Regions from separate parts of the Homo sapiens genome. Here region 1 is linked to region 2. A link means that fine-mapping ties the variant in region 2 to the expression of a gene that starts in the linked region. Tissue or cell type: whole blood. Region 2 holds a variant in brackets; the other region holds the start of a gene. All regions are shown on one strand. Distances are between the middles of the regions.

Evidence for each region.
Region 1: LSMEM1 starts here. The variant in region 2 is fine-mapped to the expression of LSMEM1 in whole blood (GTEx, PIP above 0.99).

What each region holds. Positions count from the first base shown.
Region 1 is chr7:112,476,992-112,486,251 of GRCh38, forward strand. LSMEM1 (leucine rich single-pass membrane protein 1) reads left to right here and starts at 4,000. Exons shown (of 4, transcript NM_182597.3): 1 at 4,000-4,355; 2 at 7,821-7,952. The coding sequence starts at 7,826. IFRD1 (interferon related developmental regulator 1) reads left to right here. Exons shown (of 12, transcript NM_001550.4): 12 at 1-212.
Region 2 is chr7:112,439,827-112,449,086 of GRCh38, forward strand. It overlaps LOC105375457 (a long non-coding RNA gene), which reads right to left and starts at 3,524. Exons shown (of 3, transcript XR_001745325.2): 1 at 2,479-3,524; 2 at 1,692-1,887. It also overlaps a transcript of IFRD1 not described here. The variant C/T (reference allele first, on the strand shown) is at 5,461.

The DNA of each region.
Region 1 (9,260 bases), 37 kb after region 2:
TGAGTCCCATCCCCCAGTTACAGTGCAGTGGAAAACAGGTTTAGAATCTAGAACTTGTTTGTATGTTGTCACTTGGTTATGTTCCAAGTAGGTTAGAACCATGGAAAAGAGATTGCAAATGGTAGTTTCTTCTAGATATTCAAATGCATATATGTATGTACATGTAATTATAAATAAATAATGAATTTTTATTAAAGTGTTGTATGAACATAGGTTTTTGTTTGTTTTTGAGACAGTCTCCCTCTGTTGCGCAGGCTGGGGTGCAGTAGCGCAATCTTGGCTCACTGTAACCTCTGCCTTCAGGGTCCAAACGATTCTCCTGCCTCAGCCTCCTGAGTTGCTGGGATTACAGGTGTGTTCCACCACACCTGGCTAATTTATATTTTTAGTTGTGATGGGGTTTCACCATGTTGGCCAGGCTGGTCTTGAACTCCTGACCTCAAGTGATCTGCCCGCCTTGGTCTCCCAAAGTGTTGGGATTACAGGCATGAGCCACCGTGCCCAGCCTGAACATAGTTTAATGGTACTTCAAGGCTAATAAGGAAAGCCCCTTGCTCCATCCTTTCCTATTCCTCAGTCCCATCCCAAGAGACATTCAGCCTTCAGTTTTTTCTAGCTCGGTTCTTTCAGCCTTCAGTTTTTGGTTTTAGGTTTCTAAATAATATGATTATACAGCCATTTATTTTTTAGGTGTTTGTCAACTTACTATTAAGACAGGTGAAAATTTCTTTTATTGTTTCACATCCTTCTAATATTATTTTGGTTAGATCATGTACCTGTTTGCATAGCTGTGATCATACTTGTATGTTCACTCGTGAATTAATTTAATGTGCTTACATTTTCATTCTCATACAACGTTTTGTCTTGGAGTTAATGCTCTTTTTTTTGGCTTTTTATGCACATCATTGATTCTTCCCAAACAGTCCCAAATAAATTTGTCACAACTTTTCTTGATTCTGTACTTGTTTCAATCTAGACTAGTTTCTCTCATCCAATTGTATAGCAGTTTTCCTGAGACAGCACTATCGTGAGGATTTGTTTTTCTTTCTCTTGAATTGTATCCCTCATTTTCTGGATCCCATGTCTTAATTTACTTCTTTGTTAACATGGAGCACTTCTTTCAGTAGTTTCTTGGGAATGAGTGCGTGAGAGATCAGTCAGTTATTTAGTGACTTCATATTTCTGAAAGATAGTTTGCATGGAAATTCTAGGTGGAAAATCAAATTTGGAATTTTTGAAAATTTTGACAAGTGTATTCAAATTCAGAATTTTGAAGGCATTGCTCTATTCTAATTTGCAAAATCTTGAGATATCTGATGCAGTTTTTATTTTTATTTCTTTGTTTTCTCAGCATCTCTGTTTCTAGTGTTCTAAAATTGCATGATACTGTGCTTTGGTGGGATTGGCAACCTGGAAAATATTAAGTTCTTCATCTCTTCTCTTCCTCCTCATTTTCTTTGTTCTGGAACTCTATGACATAGTGGAGCTCCCAAATTGAATCTTGGGCCTTATTTATTTTTTTTTTTTCTGTCTGGGATATTTCTCTAAGACAATTTTCCAATTTGTATTGCATTTTGTTTTTGGCTAGCATTAAATTACTTGCCTCTGTGTAGCTCCATGCCACACTCTTGCCTCTAAATCCTAGGCCTGCCTGAATTCTGCAGGATCAGTCCTACTGTCACTCATCTGTGATAGCCCTGCTAAGGCAGATACCACTCTTCTTACCATGTTCAATACATTTATTGAGCTCTTCAGTATTGTTTCTTCCTATTTTAATTTTTCTGGTTTTGTAATTTGTACTCCTGCTTTTTTACTGGGCTTTTGGGAGGAAGAAGGTATAGAGTGTTAATCTGCATGTTGAATTTATATGCAGGTGACTTTATTCATGAAACTTGTGGTAACTGCTAGACAAGGGTGGCTGGGTGTTCAATGTGTAAGAATGCTTGTGTTTTCTTGAAAGTAGAAAAATGTTGTGTTATAGACTAGTTGTTCATTGCTTGATTCTTGATTAATTTTGCCCGCTTTCATTATTTTGAGGCTCAAGCATTTTGAAGTATTCATTGTCTGTGACTCCTCTTTGATGGGTACTAAATTTCCTGGGAGTGAATTTAGATACCCTGAGATGTAATATATGAAAGAAAAAGCAAATACTTGAGAATGTCCCTAGATTAGACACTTCATGTGAGAATATCTCTTTTTGTGACCCAAAACTCTTTTTTTTTCTTTTGAGATGAAGTTTCGTTTTTGTTGCCCAGGCTGGAGTCCAATGGTATAATCTGCCTCAGCCTCCTGAGTTGCTGGGATTACATGCATGTGCCACCACACCCGGCTAATTTTGTATTTTTAGTAGAGATGGGGTTTCTCCTTGTTGGTCAGGCTGGTCTCGAACTTCCGACCTCAGTTAATCTGCCTGTCTCGGCCTCCCAAAGTGCTGGGAATACAGGCATGAGCCACCGCACTCGGCCCCAAAACTCTTCTTAAAGGTGGTCTTGCAGGTATGTTATAGTTAAAATGAAGTAGGTTGTCTTGCTTTGTTCTTAAGTGGCTTTCCAGAAGTCTAACTGGTCTAAAGGCAGTCTTATCCCCCTCACTGGTGTATAGTTCAATTCAGACTTGAATGCGAGGTATGGGTTTACATCTCATCTCTGCCACTTATAATCAGTGTATCCCTCAACAATTAAATTCCTTAGTCTCCATTTCCTTCCTCCTTCAGGGGAAGTTAATATTCCACAAAGTTAGAAGTTACAGGAGAGGAAAAGTAGTAAACGCCCCAAAATGAGGCAGTTACTTCTATTATATCTTCAAAGGATACATGGCTCAAGGCAGATCAGGTAGTTGGGAGATTTCTTAAAAACAGCATAATAGCTAACATGAACATTTTCATTATTCAGAGAAATTTGACATAGCTTTTTAACGTATGTTTCTGAGAAAAGTTACTAGTTATATTGTCTTCCTCCAAGAATTAGTCTTTGGGTACAGATGAGGCTTGAAAAAATGACATTCCCTCTTAGACTAGGTAGTGTGAAGGGAAAAAAAAAATGACATTCCTCTTCCCCCAAAGCAGAGTGAGGTCCGTATGGGATATAGGTGTAAAGAAAATTTTGGGCCGGGCATGGTGGCTCAAGTTTGTAATCCCAGCACTTTGGGAGGCCGAGGTGGGTGGATCACTTGAGGTCAGGAGTTCAAGACTAGCCTGACCAACATGGTGAAACCCCATCTCTACTAAAAATAAAGAAATTAGCCAGCTATGGTGGCACATACCTGTAATCCCAGCTACTTGGGAGGCTGAGGCAGGAGAATCTGGAAGCAGGAAGGTCTCAGTAGGCTGGGATCATGCCACTGCGCTCCAGCCTGGGCAACACAGCAAGACTCTGTCTCAAAGAAAATTTTGTGGAACACCTATTTTCTCACTGACATGAAAAATGTTTCAAAGATGAATAATGTCCATCAAGCTATGGCAATGGAAGTGAGGATGATAAAGGATTGCACAGTTGTTCACAACCTCACTGTTAGTATCCTGCTGAGATAGTTGGTCTCCTCATCACTGTAGCATCTTTTATGTACAGCAGAGGGCAGAAGCTCCTTGGCATGTATGTGAGGGAACCACATATATGGAAGGCTGTTATTCCTGAGAAAGGAGGATGTGCAGACACTCACAGAACAAAGCCTTTGTAAAGGAAAGGCGGCCGATGAGATGGAGTGCTTCCTTCACCTGTGGTGGGTCTGTATCCATGAAATCGCCCACTCACAATCGCTTTTTGTAGCTACTGGAAGCACTAGGCGTCTGACCTGCCATCATCCTTGTTATGATGTCATAATCATATTCTGTCCGTGTTTATTGCAGTTCTCTGGTTTGTCTGGAGTGTTTGCAAGTCAGTCATCATAGTGGCAGCTTCCGCCTGCTACAGGATATTTATATATGGAAGCATACCATGGCAGGAGTGCTGGAAAGGTGGTGTCAGCTAACAGTTGCTTCAGCCAGATAAGGACGGTAACTTCAGTCCAATAAAAACCTCATCAGTTACCAACTAAATCAGGGCATGGTGTTTTTTTGTTGTTTTCTTTTTAAAGCATAGTTTTAGTAATATATTTACTAAAAACCTTAGACATTATGAAAAAAGTCAGGATTTGGAATCTTACACTGCTTGGCTAAATTGACACAATATAGACCAACAGTTTCATCCTGGGGCTTATGGGTCTCATAGGAGCACCCGTATGCTGAAGAAAGGCAAAGAGAGAACTACAGAATTTGTAGAAAAGTTTTGTTGTAGTTGCTTCTGAACAATTAGTTTTTGTTTGTTTGTTTTGTTTTGTTTTGTTTTTCTGGTAACCTAGCAGTCAAAGCTCACATTTTTGTAAGTAATTTGCATGCTATTACTCTACTGAGACTGAATTATGATTCTCGAGTCTGGGAAGTTTTTGTTGCATGTGCTCTGTGTTTTTCATTTTTGATAGAAATGATTTAGACTTGATTTTAAAAATTACTTCCTGAATGTGAAGAGGCATTGACTGGGAAATGAAATTAAAGAACAAATTACCATGACTCATTCAATAACACTGCTTATTAGCTTTGAATTATGCCCTATTATAACAATTCTGATTTTGTGGCAAGCAATACTGGTGTGAGTTATTTCTGTGGTTTGATACCAAGCACCTGCCTGGTTAAAAAATAAAGCACCAGGCAATTTTTCATAGACAATTATCTTTATTTGTTGGAATATTTATTTGTAAATAGTCAAAGAATTCTTAAATGACAAAAAATCAACTGTTAGCAGTGATCTAAACCAGAGGAAAATGAAATTACTTACATGTTTCCAGTCAAGGTATAAGAAAGGGTTCTGTTAAAGGGATGCTGCTTTAGCCAATCTTGGTGAATAAGCAAATTTGCACACTGGAGTTGAAAGGAGGGTCAAGTTAGTGTGATGAAGAATTGCTAGTAACACTGGCTTCTCCAGCCTTGCTGGTTGTTCCTAGATGCCCTCATTTGGAGATGCCAAAGATAGCAACTACTGGGTGTCAAACAGCCGTGGGGCCTGGTTTTAAGGCCATGTGATCTTGTATCCCTTTACTAGCAGCCTCATGAGTCATTTGCAAGTCATTTGCAGGCTCTTGGAGCCCTGGAACAGCACCCAACTCAGTTTTCTCTGCTAGTTCTTTATTTTTCCATTTGCGTGTTGCAGCTCATTAAAAAAATATTGGAATAGCATATATTTACATTGTGACTTCACTCTAAAGAAGACATTTTCTTTCAAAGCACGTCATGGCTCACTAGGTTGTTGTCTTAGTTTTTTTTGGAGTCACCTTTTGAGTAGATAGCAAGACCAGTAATATGGAGATTTTATTAGCTGTACTCTTAAAGTCAGTTTTTGTGGCCATGATTTTCTAGCTAGGTCTCTATTTTGTAAACATTGATTAAGCCTCAGTATGAAATTGAAGCAACAGCAGATACATTCCTGAAGGGGAAGCTAAGGCTCAAGGCTATTAAGTCAGAGATCCAAAAATGAACCATGCTTCAGTTACCACACCTAAAATAGAAGCTGTGTGCAGAACAGTGGTCCTGTGATGTGACACATAAAACTTTTTTTCCTGGTCACATATTACTGTTTGGTCAAATATTAGTATAAATGGATGATAAAATATGAAACACATCTAAAAGAATTGTTTTAAAATCTGTGACTATGCATGAGTGAATATTTTGGGGCCTTGGTTTTAACTGCAAAAGGATAAGATTTGACTGACCTCTAAGGCCCTTTTACTCTATTTGCTGCTGCTTTTTAATTTTTTTTAATTGTCATATCAAGTCATTTCCTTAGGAATGCTCTATGAAGTATATTTGGAATTCAGTAATGTCAATAAAGTGCTATGGTAGTATCTTATCTGAAAACTCAGGGAATTGTTTGTTCTTGTTAATTAAAATTTCAAGATAAGTGAAACACACTTTTTTAGTTTTAACCCTAAAAAAAATTTTTAGTCCATGACTTTTTGAGCTCACTTTCTTAGCTAGGGTTCTGGTAGCACATTTTTCACAAGTACCAGTAGTTTTAGGTATTACTGGGAAATTGTTTTTTTAATATTTTAGACTAAGTTTAAATTGCTCAGTAAGTGTCTGATACTTTTTTTCCCCACATCTTCTTTAGGTGTATACTTTTTTTTTTTTTTTATGAATTTGGTTTCTCCCAACTCTATATTGCTCTTCATTCTGTAGATGAGTTTTAAAGGAAATTTTTGCAACAACAGAAAGTAAACAGTGTGTTGTCAAATACACACAGGCACCATATTTATCGCATTGACTTTACTAGAGTCCAGATAGACATCACATGAGGATTTTTATCCTCAATCTTATTTCTGTTCATGTACTTATTATTAACTGCCTCCAATTCTTTTGAAAATGGTGAGATTTAAATCCTAAATAAACATTTCAGGTGTTCCATCTTAACATAAGTCACCAACTTCTAAACCTGGCACTGGGCATTTGAAGAATAGGATTCGTCCCTACTCTAAGGAGTTTTCAGTCTATCGGGAAATCAAAGATGTAAGCAAATAGATGCAATAAAATACTACAGATGTTCTGATAGAAGAATGTAAAGAATCCAGCAAAGGCAAAAGGAAAGACAGGTTGGTTCTCTCTTCCTAGGGGAAGTGATGTTTGAGCTGAGTCTTGAGGCAGGATTAGGAAGGGATATAGAAAAGAAAAGTAGCACAAAGCAAGACTCATTGAATGCTGAACAAAAGGCCCGATTCCAGCTCTGCTGCCAGGCAAATGTGTGATCCTGGGCATTTACCTCGCCGAGCTTCCATTTCCTCATTTGCGGAAAGGATGGGAACTAAAGCACATCTAACACCCTTTCTAGATCCAAACATCCTCTATCACGATTAGACTTGATAACCATGAAAGGAAAAGCTTTTATAGTAATTGAAATTTGTCTTTCTAGAGGCTTCTTTTCACATAATTAAATGGCCACAAGTTCTCTGTTGTGCTAGAGATACATCTCCACATAAACCTTTTAAACTCTTCAGGATTTTCAGTGTTGCTTGCAGTTGTGCTGTCGTTAGAGAATATTACTTTCAATATTTAATAAACCTCAAGCTATTACATAAGTGACCTCAGTCTAAGGGAAACCCAGGTGGAAGAGATCTCAGAGGTCCTGAAGTCTAGCAGCATTCCTCTCTATAGCAGCTAAGTTTGCTAAGATTGTTGTCTTGGGGACTCACAGTCAGCATCTTATGGCTAAAGGAATTGTGTGAAGAGAAGGACTTACATGCCATATGGAGGGAGGCTATAAAAATTGCAATTTTCTATTAAAGCCTCCTGCAATTAGAATGGTTCATGGTAATATTCTCTTTTTTCAGAATGTTTTGTGGCCACTGCTGACTAGCTTAATTTTGTCTACCTAGTCTTCTTGCACAAAGGATTTGAGGCATCTCACCAGAATGTGAACAATGTAATAAAAGAAAAATTTTAAAATTAGTTACAAAATAAAAACAGATCCAGGGAAAATATAGGCAGAACTGAGACATCTGAGGAGGAGAAAAGAGTGTTTGCAGATAAGCAGGGTATACATGGATGTACAATTCTTAAAATTGGGCCACACATTTGACTGTGAGCTTCCTGGCAAGCAAAGCAAAAAGAACGATTACAAAGTGGTCCACAGAAGGAAATATTTTTTTCTGGATAAGCCAAGTTCTCTAGAGCCTTAGTTGAAAATACTATTTGTGGGTGGTTCTTCATAGGCCTGTCTGGCTTCCTGGTGGCTGTGGTTCTTGTGAAGTTGAGTTCACAAGCCCAACCTCTTGTTTTTAACATCAGTGTTTTCTTCCAGGGACAATGACTCATTCTTCCCAGGACACTGGTTCTTGTGGCATTCAGGAAGATGGAAAGCTTTATGTGGTGGATTCCATAAATGACTTAAACAAACTAAACCTCTGTCCAGCCGGATCGCAGCATCTGTTCCGTATGTGTGCTGGGGAAGGCACAGCAGCCCTTCCTAGCTTCTAGGCTACCTAAAAATAGCCACTGCTGACTGGATGTGTGGGTGTGGTGGAGGGGGAGGGGGCATTAGGAAGAGGTTGGCACTGGAAATGTTATTTGTTGTTGGGCAATTTTGCTTTTGTTTTCTGAATACTTGACAGGATTATGGGCTTTCTTGGATCCTACACGAGATTTGAACTCTTGACTTCAAATATTCTGAGATCCTGTGGCGTTTCTGTCCCTGGAAAGGGGTGGAGCCTGCAGAGCTGGACTCCTGGAGGCTGGCTCATCCCTCTCCTAGTGACCATGGCTAGGTTACCGATGGGGACCACTTCCCACAGGAGTGTTGTTTTATAGCAGATTGCTGAGAGAATGCTCAATCCAGAGCATTTTCTACTTACAAGTTACAAATTGTGCAATTAAGGGTTGGAGAAAGGGGGTGGGGGGAGCAAAATAAAATCTGCTAAATACTAAGTGTGTATCTTGCCTCCTAAATATTATAAATGAGCTTTATCAGATCACTCTGAGTGCCATCTTTTCTAGCTTAAATGCTGACATTCAAACACCAGTGTTAATTGCTCACTTGCCATTTGTTTCATATGCACTCTAAACTTACTGTTCCAATTTTATATCTATTATTTCCTGTCTAAATCCTTTCCAAGTTCCTCCTTTTTTTCTTCATTTTAATAAGTTCAAATTTTCATCTGTTTTTATTGCTGTCAGTCTCAATAGCAGTAGAAGTTTAGGTGTCAGCCCTATGCTGTTGCTTTGATTAGGAAGCAAAAGTGGCTGAAGCGTATGGCATAGGATGTACTTATAAGGCATGGGACATAAGCCACCCATCTGTCCATAATCAAGTGGCACAGTGAGTGGGACCAATTCAACGTAGGAGAGTATGCAAAAAGTAATCCAGTGATCTCCACTACCCCAGGTTTCTGCGTTGCTTATTCACTGCAACAAATAATCTGGGTGTTATTAGGCAACTAGATCTTGCAAAACGGTGATTAAATGCAGTCAATTCTTGGTTTGAGTGAACCAAGCTGTCGATAAAATGTAGCTGCATTCTCAGTTCAACTGCAAAGCATTTAAAAGAACGTTGCTTCCAGAGCATATCCATCCAGAAGACAGCTTTAAAAAACCAAAATAGGTCAGGGCCATTTTTGTTTAAATGGATGTAGGCTTAACTGATTATTCCTATAATAAAAGAAGTTTCCAGGGAAATATCCCAGAGCATTCAATTGAGTCTTCCACCCAGCATAGGTATCCCACAACCAGCTCTGTTTTACTCCTG
Region 2 (9,260 bases):
ACCCAACCCCTGGAGCTGGGGTCCAGCCTTCCCCTGAAGCACATGGCCCCTCGAAGGAGGTTGGATATCTGAACAAAATTGGGGTTCTGAGAATAAGCAAGAGAGTAAGATGGATCTGCGGCAGGAAATCAATGATGTCTGCAACAAATTAATTTCAAAAGCCATTTTTTTTTTTTTGAGATGCAGTCTTGCTCTGTCACCTAGGCTGGAGTGCAGTGGTGCAATCTCGGCTCACTGCAACCTCTGCCTCCTGGGTTCAAGAAATTCTCCTGCCTCAGCCTCCAGAGTAGCTGGGACTACAGGCGTTCGCCACCATGCCAAGCTAATTTTGTATTTTTAGTAGAGATGGGGTTTCCCAATGTTGGCTAGGCTAGTCTCGAACTCCTGACCTCAAGTGATCTGTCTGCCTTGGCCTCCCAAAATGCTGGGATTACAGGTGTGAGCCACGGCACTCGGTCACAAAAGCCTTTCTTGAATGGAATGAAAATATTTACTAAGTGTGTCTTATTTATATAAGGCTGATAAATCTTTTAGCAGTCTCAGCAGTTTGATAAATGGTTAGTTTTCTCTCTTGATTTTAATAAAACAATTAACATAATTATAATTTAAAGACTATTTTAAATAAATATTTAAATGTGATAAGCCTGGTACGGTCAATTCAGTTTGGCATAGGTTTTTAAAGTGTCTGTTCAGAATTCTTTTGGCTGGATTGGTTCACAATAAATATCAGTAATGATGAATGAAATTTGGCAGTTCACTCATTCTCCATAATTTAGAAAGGTGCTAACATGCCTCCAAAGTGTTAGAGAATCTGTTCCTACTTCCTACTGCCTTTCATCTGAGTGTAAAAGATAGGCTTTTAAAGTCCCACTTGCAAATGCCTGGACAGTTTTCTGGAACTCCAAGAGACACTAATCAAAAAAACAGAGGAGTGCTAAGGAGAAACTGTAAACTATCCTAGTTTGCAAGAAATAAAAACTGACTGGACCTAACTTGAGCATAAGAAACAATTTATTTTAAAAGTTCAGGCTGGGTGCAATGGCTCACCCCTGTAATCCCAGTACTTTGGGACGCCAAGGTGGGCGGACTGTGTGAGTCCAGGAGTTCCAGACCAGCCTTGGAAACATGGCAAAACCCCGTCTCTACAAAAAATACAAAAATTAGGCTAGGCAGGGTGGCTCACACCTGTAATCCCAACACTTTGGTGGGAGGCTGAGGAGGGTGGATCATGAGGTCAAGAGATTTGAGACCGTCCTGGCCAACATGGTGAAACCCTGTCTTTACGAAAAACACAAAAATTAGCTGGGCGTTCGTGGTGTGCGCCTGTAATCCCAGCTACTTGGGAGGCTGAGGCAGAAGAACTGCTTGAACCTGGGAGACGGAGGTTGCAGTGAGCCAACACCACGCCACTGCACTCCAGCCTGGGCAATAGAGTGAGATCCTGTCTTAAAAAAAACAAAAACAAAAACAAAAACAAAAATTAGCCGAGCATGGTGGTGCACACCTGTAGTCCCAGCGGCTTTGGAGGCTGTGGTGGGAGGGTTACCTGACCTCAGTGAGCTGTGATCGCACCACTACACTCCAGTCTGGGTGAGAGGCAAGACACCATCTCAGAAAAAAAAAAAAAGTTCAGGATGTTCCCTGGAAGCCTAAGGCAGGAATTCAATTGAGTCTCTGGTAGTTCTGCCTACCTGGAAGTGGAAGCTCATGACGAGATGGGAAGATCCATTTCTTGTCTCTGCTTCTCTCTACAGTCCTGTTTCATTCTCTCCTCTCTGCAAACTGTCTTTCTTGTTTTTTCATGTCTGTGGTGGGCAGATGATAGCTACTTTTTATTCTCTGCTCAGAAGACAGTCCAGAATCTTTGAGTGTCTCTCAGTTCTAATTCTGAATTCCAAGGAGAGAGAATCTGATTTACAAATAATGCTGAGCTCTCGTGCTAGACTAGGAACTTTATGAGGCCAAATACTCTATTTTCAGGCATCCCTTTGTCTCATGCTCTAGAACATGCTTAGTATATAGTGGACACCTGAGGAATGTTTGTTGAAGGAACTGAGACTTTTCCAAAAATGATGACTATCCAGTGTTGAAACTAGCGGCCCTGAAGAGTTGTGTGATTCCTAGCACTCGCAGAATTTAAGAAAAAAATGGATAAATATCTGCTTACTAATATTAATGGCTAACATGTACTGTTTCATACATTCCTCATTCATATAGCTTAGATTAAGGAACTTGCACACAGTCACCAAACTAGTAAGTGGTTGATAAGGCATTTTGACTCTAGTTCTGTCTGTCTGGATCTAAAACTCGGTGACCCTCCAGCACAGTATATGGCCTCCAATAAGATTTTTAGGAGCAATGCTGGAGGCCTGGTTGAGTCAGTCTAGTCTTGTCCTTATAAGTCTGATCTGGGGCTTAGTAAATTTCTCCTGTTAACCACTTTATCAGCTCCCAGCCAAAAGATCTTCCCTTGCTTACTGATGTCTAAAATTCCATCTTTAGCAGAGTCATTTCTTTCTTTGGTTTAATATAAGGAGTATCTCATCATTATAGAGTACGTGGCAGGTTACAAAGACCTTTACATAATGATGTCATTTTTATGACAATCCAGTGACATCAATAAGGCAGGGATTATTGACTCCCATTTTTGAGATAAAGAAATGGAGGTTCACTGCTGCTAGGTGACTTGCTCCAGAAGAGATGACTGAACTCTCCAGGGAGCCTATGGACTCACCGCTTAGGGGTAGAGAGGAGGAACCTCTTTGGTCATGTCCCTGGGGGTGGGCAGTGAAAGCTGATCCATCAAGAGAGAAGCAAGAGTCACCTCCAAATGGGCTGAGAGGGACGGACAGCCACGGGCCACCTGGTACTGAGTTCTGTTGCTGGACTAGGGACTTTATGAGGACAAACACTGTTTTCAGTCATCTCTTTGTTCTCATGCTCTAGAACATGCTTGGTATATAGTGGACACCTGAGGAATATTTGTTGAAGGAATTGAGACTTTTCAAAATATGACAAATATCCACTGTTGGAATGAGCTTCCCTGAAGAGTTGTGTGAGTTCTAGCACTGTCAGAGTTTAAGAAAAAATGATAAATATCTGTTGACTAATATTAATGGCTAACATTGTTTACTATGTGCTGAGTACTGAGCTAAGTACTTTACTTGTATTGTTTCATGTATTCCTCATTCCAACCACATGAAATAGGTTCTATCATTAATCACATTGAAACCAAGGCATGGAAGAGTGAAGTTACTTGCTCAAGAATCCATTGCAAATAGTATGGCCAGGATTTGAACCCTGGAATACTGAGTTAGAGCCTTGGATCTTAATCATGTTGTCAGTCGTTTCCCAGGTGAGGCAGGAGTCTGAAGTAGGTTACCCCTTAAGAAATTTTCAACTATTTAAGATTCTCTGGTGGTTGGCCGTAAGATTAGTACTACCACACGGAGAAAGCTGGGAACAAGAACTGGTTGTAGACTGGGTGTGGTGGTTCATGCCTGTAATCCCAGCACTTTGGGAGGACTGCTTGAGCCCAGGAGTTTGAGACCAGCCTAGGCAACACAGCAAGACCTCATTTCTACAAACATAAATAAGTAAATTAGCTGGGATACATGCGTCTGTATCCCAGCTACTCAGGAGGCTGAGACGGGAGGATTGCTTGAGCCCAGGAGGTCAAGGCTGCAGTGAGCTGTGATGGCACCACTGTACTCCAGCCTGGATGACAGAGGGAGACCCATCTCAAAAAAAGCCCCCCAAAAACGGCCGAGTGTGGTGGCTCATGCCTGTAATCCCAGCACTTTGGGAGGTCGAGGTGTGTGGACCACTTGTCAGGAGTTCGAGACCAGCCTGGCCAACATGATGAACCCCGTCTTTACTAAAAATACATAAATTAGCCAGGCATGGTGGTGAACGCCTGTAATCCCTCGGGAGGCTTTGGCAGGAGAATTGCTTGAACCCGGGAGGTGGAGGTTGCAGTGAACCGAGATCGCACCATGGCACTCTAGCCTGGGTGACAAGAGTGAAACTCTGTTTCAAAAAAAAAAAAAAACCCAAAAAACAAACACCATCCCCCACCAAAAAAACAAAAACAAAAACAAAAAAACAAAACTAGTTGTAGAATGTAGAGAGGTTGGTAAAGAACAAGTTGATTTTGGTTATGTTTGGTATGAAGAGTCAGGATATCCAAATGGAAAAGTCCACTGATATTCTTTATGTTCAACAAAAAGATAATTCCTACTTACGCTGTTGCCATAAAAAGTTCTTCCAACATAATGCGTCATAACTATCCTAGTTTGGCTGTGTGTATTATGGTACTTATGGCTCACAGTACCCTGTTAACACAGTCTCATATTTTATTATTGATAATACTGCAGCTTTGTGAGATAAGCAACATTCCCATTTTAGAAGACAATTAAACACTGACTGTCTTTTGTCAGAAATTTCATTACAGAAAGTGTATGTAATTTCAAAACTGAAAACCACAAAGAAGTATCTTCTACACAACAAAAAGAAAAAAGCAAACAAAATATATCTTAAGGCTTAAAGAGTTCTAACTAAATTTGCCCGCCGAATCATTTCTTAACAAACAGGGATCTCAAATTTAGCATGCTGTATTATCACCATTCTTGGCAATAAAACAAAAATTGCAAACATATTAAGAAAACAATGCAATCTAAAACACAACAAGTGATAATCCATGTAAAAAATTATTTGATGGAATAACATTACTATTTAATAATAAAGTTCTGCTAAAGCTTTAGAAATATCAGAAAAAACTTACACTGGCAAACATTCATCAGGCAGTCAACAACTGAATGTCCCCTGTATACTGATACTAGGGGTGAAGAGACTCTAAAAAAAAGGGGAACAAGGCAAAATTTAACTTCAAGGGGCCTTTTCTCGCAGCATTGCAAATAAAACCCATGACTCTGGACATAAAAAAGCAACAGTGACACTGGGGACTACTAGAGGCGGGAGGGATGGAGGGGGAAAGAGTTGAAAAACTACTGGGTGCTATGCTCACTACCTAGGTGACGGGATCATTCATATCCCAAACCTCAGCATCATGCAATATAACCATGTAACAAACCTGTACATTATACCCTGAATCTAAAAGTTGAAATTATAAAAAAGCAAACAAGAAAACCCATGACTCCTAGGAACAAGCACTCAGGTTCCCATATGACCAAAGCCAGCCAGAGGCAAACTTGGAATCAGATAGGCCTAGGCTTTCTTTTTTTTTTTTTTTTTTTTTTGAAACAGGGTCTCGCTCTGTCACCCAGGCTGGAGTGCAGTGGCGCAATCTCGGCTCACTGCAAGCTCCGCTTCCCGAGTTCATGCCATTCTCCTGCCTCAGCCTCCCGAGTAGCTGGGACTACAGGCGCCCGCCACCACGCCCGGCTAATTTTTTATATTTTTAGTAGAGACGGGGTTTCACCGTGTTAGCCAGGATGGTCT[C/T]GATCTCCTGACCTTGTGATCCGCCCACCTTGGCCTCCCAGAGTGCTAGGATTACAGGTGTGAGTTACCCCGCCCGGCCGGCCTAGGCTTTCATCACAACAGACGCACTGTTTACCAATGGTACGACCTTGGGGAAGTTGCAAAACCTCTCTAAGCTCATTTCTTCATCCACAAAATGGTAAAACTAATCTTTTCTGCGTAGGGTTGTTGTAAGAATTACATGAGAGGTGTGAAAACAGTCTAGAACAGTGGCAGTGTGGACTTGCAATAAATGTTAGCCTCATCCTTTTCCCCACATTAGTTCCTTTGCTTTTAAGAAAACTGCTAAAATACAGAGGAAATTGACTCCCTCATTCAATTAAAAACACAGTTATTGTCTACTGGGCCACTATGTACAGATGTATAGGTTGTTCCCTGCTGAAGAGAGATTGGTGACTGGATTCCAGCCCATAAACACTCATCAGACTTGGTGTTCTGTTTCTAATTTGCACAAAGGTGCTACATGTGTGTTTCAGAAGTGACAAAACTGGGCTTTGCCCACAAGTAGCATGTAGCTTGTATCTCATGTCTGAGGGGAAAACAGACAAGTAATCAAGAACTACAATACATATTAAAAAAAAAGAAGTAAAAAAACCCTACAATACATATAATTAATGCTAGTCTAAAGAAGGCACTGCAAGAACAAAAAAGAAAGACATTTAAATCAGACAATTTGGGGGGCCCAGGATTAGTGACCGAGGATCAGTAACTTAAAGGATGATGGGGAGATCGTGGGGAAGGATGTTCTAGGCAGAGGAGTGACATTTAATTATTAATACATTTATTCATTCAGTAAATGTGTTTTGTTAGTTCATGTCTTTTATTAACTCATACACAATTAATTGTCTTCTGGTTTGCTGAAGCAATGAGACATTTGTCACAATAATGTCTGTCAAAGTGGCTGGCCATAAACGCTCCAGTACCACATTCATCTGAAGAGCACTCTAGATGAAGGCGACTTATTTTGCCATTCTCATCCACCTTACAGTATTTCAGGACAGCCAGCTTCACCTTCTTTCGCTTACGCTTATTCTTCTCAGGAGTGGTGTAAACATTCAGTAAAAAATAATTGAATATCTAAGTGCCACGTACTGTTCCAGTACTGAAGATACAATAGTGAATAAAACAGACAGGATCTCTTTCTTGTAATTCTAACATTCTAGTAGAAGAGACAAAAAATAATTGGGCCAAAAAATATTAAGTAGTGCGATGTACTTTGGGAGAATATAAGCAGGGTGGAGGTGCTGGTGGTAGGTGGGGTGAGGATGCGACCTTAGAATGGAGAGTGGAAGAGTGGGAGAGTAGGAAGGCCTCTTCAGGTAGGTGTCATTTAAGCTCAGATCTGAATGGCAAGTGTGGGAAGCTCGGGTTGATCATATCAGGCAGAGGGAGGAGCTGTTGCAAGTCTTAAGTGGGGAATGAACTTTGTGTTTTTAAGTTGGCAAAGACCAGTGTGGCTGAAATGCAGTGGATGAAAAGAGGGGCAGGAGATGCAATATGGAGAGAGAGGTATGTGCCAAACCTAGGTAAGGCCTGGAAGCTTGAGAGTGGTGAGCTCAGAGACCTGCTAAGAGTTTGATATGGCATTAGGAAAGGGACTGTGTTAGGTGATGAGAGAAGTGATTTGGGAGATACAGGCAAGAAACAGATTCCGACAAGCCCTACATGGAGGATCTGGGAGGTATTATTTCTGCTCAGTGCTATGCAGAGAATCCCAAGGAGGCCATGACTAAAGTCATTCAAAGAAAACCTTTCATGTTTATGCCTTCAAGGAAGGTATGAATACTGAATCTTATCTTTATTACTTGTTCTTGAATCAAAGTCATCAATGAGAACTTAGAACTCTTCTCAGGCGTGCCCCTAAATTCTGATTAATGTAAGATTTATTTTTGCAACATTTGAGTATACTTACCCTGATGGTGATTTCTGTTCCATGGAATGTTAAACTAAGTTGTTTTGTAAAAGAAGAATATATTTTACAATGACTTAAATGTTGAGGCAGCACATAATGTCATGTTGGTAACAAATATGTGATATTTATTTATTAGAGCATGAGAGTATTTTGCCTCCTGATATATGAGGCAGACATTGCTATTTGTCTACCTTATATCCATGGTTTCCCCTTCATTCTTAACAACAGAACCTCAATTTTGTTTGCGAATGAGCCCAACCGAAAATACTTGTGTTCTAAACTTCCTTGCAGCTAGGGATCATCCTGTGACACAGTTCTGGTCAACATGTAGGTGGAAGTTTCTAGGGAGTGTGGTCTTTCCTGAAGAAAAAGGCAAAGTCTGGAGAAAGCCCTTTTTCCTGTTCCCTTTCGTGCTTCCCCTTCCTTTCTGGTATTTGTAATCATTTAGTGACTTGATGTTTGGAGTCTTCTAATTTCTTTAAACATATTGCAAAATAGTATGTGGAGCTGAAGACCACTGTCCCATGAGGAGGTGGGCTACATCTTTGTGATGTTTGCACTGGTCTGGAGCTAAACTGCAGGCATAAAACTATAGTAAGGTAATTTTATCAAAAGTACAGTATCTCTCAGAATTCATTATACTGAAGGCTGTACTTCATGTTTGTAGTGATAAGTAGTTTCTCCCTTTCCTTGATCCAGAATGTATGTATGTAGTGATACATAAGTTTCTCCCTTTCCTTGATCCAGAAAAATCTAGTCAACAATTATTTCTTAAATGTTCATTTAACTATATATATACTGACTATAATTTCAATTTCAAATGTAACACTTCCTTTTGTGCCATGAGGGATACAGCAAGATTTTTTCAAGTTCCTGGGCCTGTAGATTTAAAAAAAAAAAAAAAAGAAAGAAAAGTAAGAAAAAAAGAAAAGAAATTAAAAAGAGGAAAAGATTTTTGTTCTTGGGAAGCTGATAATTTCATGAGATGACAGATGTATTCACAAATAAATGTAAAACAAGTACGTATATGATGTGGTGGGCCATGGCCAGGCCTGCCGCAGAACGACTAAGTGGATGTGAAGGGATTTGGAAAAAAAGCCCCTGCCCCAAATGCAAAGCACACGTTTCCAGGGCTGGAACCTGGATGTTAGGCCTAGGTGATGTGACTCCAGAGTGGCAAAACTGTTGCCTTATGTATAGTATAAATTGTTTCTGGATGGTGAAGAGCCTAGGGTTATAAAAGTTATTGAGTCTACAATTCTGTGAGACATCTCATTCTGTATAGGCCCTGTCACTGAGTTGCAGTGTGCCTCTAGATACAAGGAGTCAGTGTGAGCTGCTTCCTCCCCCACAACCTGCCTCCGTATTTGGTTTCTGTGCTCTGTGCAGTTTACTGGCTGCTTCAGGATTAAACAAAGTAAAAGCAACCCTGAAATGTTGCCCATTAAATAGCATCTTTGAGTAGGCCGTGTGGGGAGGTAATAAGTGCCATTAGGGCATTATTAGGATGAGTGTCAAAGAGTTGTGAGGAGGAAGAAACTTCTGGCTGGAGGCTTCAGGAAGGTGGCAGCATGAGCTACATCTTGAACGGTGGATAAAATTTCTTAAGGTGAAGATGGGAGGAAAGGCATTACAAGAACAGGAAAGAATATGAATGAGGAAATGGAGGTAGGAGAAGAGAGCCGTGTATTGGAAATGAAAAGCAGTCCTGTTTGGCTGAAGAACAAGAACTGTATGAGGAAGCAGTGAAAGATGAGGCTGGAAAGGGAGTCAGGGCCAGGCTAAAAGGGTTGGCATTTAAAGTTAGTCATGGGAGCCATGGAATGTTTTTGAGCAACTATTAAAGCAG